Homo sapiens: one gene and its partner. The protein of the gene in region 1 interacts with the protein of each later gene in a biochemical or structural test. Each region holds a gene or a part of one and is shown in the gene's direction. Other genes may lie near its edges.

Region 1 (3,500 bases):
TTGAGGCACAAAAAGGTTAACTAGAGCACTGTCAGAGTTGCAAATGGTAGACTGGGAATAAAAGCTCAGGAACTGCAATTCCAGACCTCATGCCATTAACTATTACCATATTCTTGATATTTTAGCAATTTACCAGCTGAAATTTAAGCTGTGTGAAGGTTTTTCAGATAACCTAGAATAACTTTTCAAGTTTAAATTGTGACTCAGAGTTAGTATTATGGTAGCTAATAACCCTCAAAATTGCAATTTCTTACAGAGCTGAATGCCAAGAAAATTGAGTTTGAACAATTTCTGCCTATGATGCAAGCCATTTCCAACAACAAGGACCAGGCCACCTATGAAGACTTTGTTGAGGGTCTGCGTGTCTTTGACAAGGAAGGCAATGGCACAGTCATGGGTGCTGAACTCCGCCATGTTCTAGCCACCCTGGGTAAGGGAATTTATTTCAGTGGACTTAGTGAGACAGAATATATAGAAAAGAACATGACAGGAGAATCATGTCACTACCAAAATAGGAGGAAAGACTACAAAGGGAAAATGGGAAAAAAAAATAGTCAAAAGTTAATGACCATTTCAATTGGCCTCAGTGGCAGTGAGTTTGGTGAAAATGTTAACTTAAAATATTGGTAATGAATAAGTAAAGGAAAGCATGGTAGTTCTTACAGGACACTTTGTATGACAACAGATAATGTGTATTTAATTAACTCATTCAAAAACCAATTAGTTGACAATATATTAAGTACCAAAAGAATGGGAAAGTCACAGTTCCTATATGTCAAGAGTTTAGTCTCCAGAGCCCTTGACTGATGACCTATGGTGGATTTTGAAAATAACACATGGCCTTCTTTCTGAAAGGAGAGTTTTGTTTCATCAGGTGAAAAGATGAAAGAGGAAGAAGTGGAAGCCCTGATGGCAGGTCAAGAAGACTCCAATGGCTGCATCAACTACGAAGGTAGAATCAATGCTCACTGGTGGTTACAGCAACTCTTAACTGATCAGATTGATGATGGGCTCCTTTTGAGCTTCTTTTCCTCTTCCTTCCTTATTGACATACATATGACAATCAATTGCATAACTCTAAAAAGATATGTGAGGATCTGAACATATAAATAACATTTATTCCAGTGTGTTTTAGCAATACTGTGCATTGTTTTAAAGCTAAAAATGTGTTTTCACATATATTTTTTGTTAGATCTTCAGAACATCCCTATGAGTTAGACAGGGCTGATGTCAGAATCAAATTTAATAGAATATTAAACTTGAAGAAATCTCAAAGTCATTTACTAATATGAAGCAATTATGAAAATGAAACTTCGGGCCAAATAGGTTTAGTTACTTGGTGAAGGTCAAATCACTAATGGCCAGGCTGGTGGTAAAATTTACTTCTTTTCCTTGTCTAGTGTTCTTGCTTACATGAAAGTCAGCCCACAGTTGCCAATTGTTTAATTCCTACTACCAATTTACAGCAGCTTCACCCAGAGGGTGTGAAAGCAATGCACTACAGAAAACAAAGATGCATAATATAATTTACAAATTTAAAAATTTTTTAATTTGTAAGAAAATTTAAAAATGTTTCTATCCCCAAAGAGAATGAATCAAGTTACATATAAATAAAGACAAAAAGAGAAAAACAAAGAAGAGAAGAGAATGAGAGGGGAAGAAAGGAGAAGAAAGGAAAGGAGGGAGAAGAGGACAAAAAGAAAGGGCTTAGCCAAGCATATCTTCACTGACAATCTTGATTAAACTTCACTTTTTTCCCCGTCGACAATTCTTCACATTTGGCTATTACCGTAAATACACTCCATAGAGAATCATTCAATAAATACTGTTTGAACAAGTGGACAGTCATCTAGAAAATAAAGTCAAATCTGAATTTTATGCCAAGACAAATTTCAAATAATTTACATGTGAAATGTAAAAGCTAAAAACATAAAGAGCACAAAAATCACAGAAGAATTAATTTTATAACTTTGGAGTGGTTACGTTTTTTCTAACAGTGACACAAAAACCAGACGGCATTGAAAATCTTGACAAATTTAATCACATACTTTAAAAAATCTATATGGCAAAAGCCACCAAAGCAAAGTCAAAAGACAGCAAACCAGAAAAAAAAAAAATTCAATTAATACCAGAAAGAGCTAATTTTCCTAATAAAAAAGAACTACTACAAATTAATAAAAGATCATATCCAATAGAAAATTAGCAAGTACATGAACAGACAATTCATAGGAAATAAAATGAATAAAATAAGATGACAAACTACATTAATAATTTTTAAAAAGCAAATTAAAACTACACTGACAGCTGGGCGTGGTGGCTCACGCCTGTAAATCCAGCAGTTTGGGAGGCCCAGGTAGGTAGATCACTTGAAGTCAGGAGTTCCAGACCAGACTGGCCAGCATGGTGAAACCCTGTCTCTACTAAAAATACAAAAATTAGCTGGGCGTGATGGCACACAGTAGCCTGTAGTCCCAGCTACTCAGAAGGCTGAGGCACGAGAATCGCTTGAACCCGGGAGGTGGAGTTTGCAGTGAGTGAAGATCGCGTTACTGCACTCCAGCCTGGGTGGCAGAGCAAGACTCCATCTCAAATAATAATAATAATATAAAACTACACTGAGATATCATTTTTCAATAAGCTGATTGCCAAAGATTAAATGTTTGGGCACACTTTGGGCTGAGGAGAGGGTGTGGAAACAGGCAATTTCATGTATCACTGATGGGAATGCATGTTGTTAAAACCCCTAGGTTATGGTGTGGTACTACTAATTGCAGCAAATCTACTTCTGGAGAGACTTAGTCTCTAGATATACTTTCACTCAAATGAGATGACCATATATAGATGGTTATTCATTACTGTGCTGTTCATAACTGCCAAATTTTTTTAACAATTTAATGTCCATCAAAGTATAATTTCATCAATGTATCAATGTGAAAACAATCGAATGTCTATCAATGTATCAATGTGAAATTCTCTGCAGCCCTAAAAAATAGGGACACTCTTGTGTACAGTTATAATATCTGTAAGATAAATTATTAATTGAAAAAAGGAATACAAAACAATGTATAGAGTATGCCATTTTTTGTGTAAAAAGATTTTTAGAAACATATTTATGTGGTCTTGTATATGCATAAACAGCTCTGTCAATTTAGCAGTAAAAAGGGGAACCAGTTGCCTAGCAGACAGTGATGGGAAACATTTTGTTGTTATATACCCTTTCATACGTTAAAGAAAATATTTTAACCATAGCTGGGCACAGTGACATGTGCCCGTAGTCCCAGCTGCTTGGGAGGCTAAAGCAGGAGGATTGCTTGAGCCCAGGAGTTTGAGTCAAGCCTTGACAACACAATGAGACCCTATGTTAAAAATAAAAATGTATGTGAATGTACCACTTATTCAAAAAATTAATTTGCAAAATCAGGGCAAAGGTCATAAATCCACTACTAAGAATTATGAGCTATACACACCTTAAATACAAAAGAAAAGAAACTATTGTTACA
Region 2 (2,905 bases), on another chromosome or scaffold:
TGAGGCCCCAGGGCCCCCAGCCCCACTCTACCAGCCACCCTCGTCCTTCCGAGGAGACCCACCCGACTGGCTTCCTCGGCCTTCCACTCTGAGCAAGCAGTGTCTTCTCATTCTCCCTCCACTTCTCTGTCGGTAAAATGGGCATCAGAGGCTGCTGCTGACTTCCCAGAGCTGCCTAGTGAATTTTGAGGTGGCTTCTTGCCTGGCTGCCAGCAGTGGGCTCAGATTCTCCTTGTGGTCCAGCTCACAGGACACAGTCGGCTCCACCTAGCATGACTGAGTGACTTCTGCCGGCTCAGAAAGTGCTCCGTGGGCATCAGCGTTTCAGCAGGGGTCCCACGCTGAGCCCAGGGGCAGCTTTTGTGCTCTAGCACTCCAGCACAGGGATGTCAGCATTCTCATGGGGGTCTTTTTCTAGCAACTGTGAGCATGCTTCCTAGAGGAGAAACCAATGGGGACAGGGGCCGCCTTGGCCCGGGGAGCTGCAGAAAGTTTTTACTTACCAAAAGCTTTCTATGCAATCCTGGAAAGAACAGGCCCTGGGATCACAGCCCTCCCAGGCCAGGTGCAGCCTACAAACCTGGTGTCCTAATAAACAGTGCTGCCCCACGGCCCAGGAATACAGCACCCGTGTTTACCTTGACTGTGCATTTCAGGAAAATGGTGCAGTGAGAAAAAAGGGCCCAAGGTTGTCCTCCCAGGACTGGGTCTGAGGGAAACAGCTCTGGCCTGCTCTTAACCTTTATCTATATTGCTTACTTCATTGGGCCTCAGTTTCCCCACTGGGCATTACTCACAGGATGCAAACTGGGCATCCTGTGGGCTGGAGTGCAATGGTGTGATCTTGGCTCACTGCAACCTCTGCCTCCCAGGCTCAAGTGATTCTCTGTCCTCAGCCTCCCGAGTAGCTGGGGCTAAGGTGTGCACCACCTCACCCGGCTAATTTTTGTATTTTTTGTAAAGATGGGGTTTCACCATGTTGCCCAGGCTGGTCTTGAACTTCTGAGTTCAAGCTATCCACCTGCCTTGGCCTCCTAAAGTGCTGAGATTGCAGGTGTGAGCCACTGCACCCAGCATCAGACCATTATATTAAAAACAACAACAACAACAAAAAACTGCAAAATTTAAAAATTAAGAGATTCCCTATGAAAACCCAGATTTCTGGCTTTTCTTGAAAAGTTGGAAGCTCCAGGCAGTGCAGGGTCCGGATTCCTGCCTGGCAGCCCTCAGGTGGGGTGAGTGGCAGCTGCCCCCTTACACGTGGGCATTTGCTCCCTGTTCTCCCCAGTCTCTACCCCTCCCTCACTGAGAGGCAACTGCTGTGTAAGTGTGATAGGGCTTGGGCGGCAGCCTTTCTGCACCTGATCCTGTTTCACCCATTTGTTTTCCTGCCTGCCACCTGTGGGTATTTGAGTTTATAAACCCTGTGTCTAGTGGGGAGTAGGAGTCTAAATGCCTAGTTCTGGGCCCACCCTGGCCCGTTGTCTCATTTCTGCCACCAGAGCGGCAGGCGCAGGCTGTGAGGCTCACCGATGTCCCTCCTGACCCTCCCTCCCCGCAGTGGGCCACCACCATCCTGGACATTGAGCGCTCCTTCCCCGTATTCCTGAGGAAGGCCTTCCGCTCTGGGGAGATGGTCACCGTGGGCAAGAGCTCGGACGGCACTCCTGACCGCAGGTGGTGCTTCAGGTGAGGCTGGGGCAGTGGGGCCAGGATGGCAGGGCGGAACTGTCCCCACTGGCTCGGGGCCCCTGCTGCTCCAGCGTCGTCTACCCATTGCAATTTCTGGAGCCACTGAGGCCCCAAGAGGCCCGAGCAGAGTTCATTTCCACCAGGCGATCTCAGGCAAGTCAGCCCACCTCTCTCAGCCTCAGTTTCTTCATCTGTGGAATGAGACAATGATCTCACGGGCTCCTAGGCTGGCGGTGCGGATTAGACAGGTCAGCACGTGAGAAGTGCTCAGCCAGTGCCCGACGCGCATCGGGACGCCACAGGCTCCCCTGTTCTTGCTCAGGGGGAAGCAGAGACTTGGATGGTGGGTTCATTTTAGAGCATCACCCTGTATCTACCAAACAGTGGGGTGAGCTCTAGTGCCCTCGGTGAAATGGGAAGCTGAGGAATGTGCAGTTTCCAGGGCTGGAGACCTCACCCAGCCCATCTGCAGAATGACTCCGTGTTCCAGAGGCACAGGGAGTGCCAGCTTCTTAGGGGAACCCCTTCATGAATCTTTTCTTTCCAGTTGATTCATTCATTGTAAAGTGGTTGTCAGCATGGAGCATAAGCAGAATGTTTGGAGTCAGACAAAGTCAGTTTCTTCATCTGTGAAATGGGAACAATAATAGAACCCACCTCCTAGGCCATCCGATCAGTTCAATTCCATTTTTTGTTTGTTTTTAGAGGCAGGGTTGCTCAGGCTGGAGTGCAGTGGTGTGATCATAGCTGACTGCAGCCTCCAACTCCTGGTCTCAAGCGATCCTCCCACCTCAGCCTCCTCATGCCACCATGTCCGACCAATTTTTAATTTTTTTGTAGAGATGGGGTTCTTGCTATGTTGCCCAGGCTGGTCTCAAACTCCTGGTCTCAAGCGATCTTCCCACCTCAGCCTCCCAAAATGCTGGGATTACAGGCGTGAGCCACCACACCCAGCCTCTGTTCAGTTTGAATCCAAAGCTCAAATCTTGGCTGGGTGTGGTGGCTCGTGCTTGTAATCCCAGCACTTTGGGAGGCCAAGGTGGGTGGATCACCTGAGGTCAGGAGTTTGAGACCACCCTGGGCAACATGGTGAAACCCTGTCTCCACTAAAAATACAAAAATTAGTCGGGAGTGGTGGCATGCACCTGTAATCCCAGCTACTCGGGAGGCTGAGGCAGGAGAATCGCTTGAACCTGGTAGGTGGAGGTTGCAG

Evidence for each region. Proteins that work in one complex are often made in the same cells at the same time.
Region 2: the proteins of MYL1 (region 1) and TRPV4 interact in a test that uses a peptide from one of them, tested with the Homo sapiens proteins (one large-scale study listed by BioGRID).

The regions. Positions count from the first base shown.
Region 1 is NC_000002.12:210,291,175-210,294,674, reverse strand, and holds part of MYL1 (myosin light chain 1/3, skeletal muscle isoform), read left to right. Parts: intron 1-256; coding exon 257-430; intron 431-874; coding exon 875-952; intron 953-3,500. UniProt on the Homo sapiens protein: Non-regulatory myosin light chain required for proper formation and/or maintenance of myofibers, and thus appropriate muscle function.
Region 2 is NC_000012.12:109,785,494-109,788,398, reverse strand, and holds part of TRPV4 (transient receptor potential cation channel subfamily V member 4), read left to right. Parts: intron 1-1,502; coding exon of another isoform or gene 1,503-1,523; exon of another isoform or gene 1,524-1,561; coding exon 1,562-1,689; intron 1,690-2,905. UniProt on the Homo sapiens protein: Non-selective calcium permeant cation channel involved in osmotic sensitivity and mechanosensitivity. Activation by exposure to hypotonicity within the physiological range exhibits an outward rectification.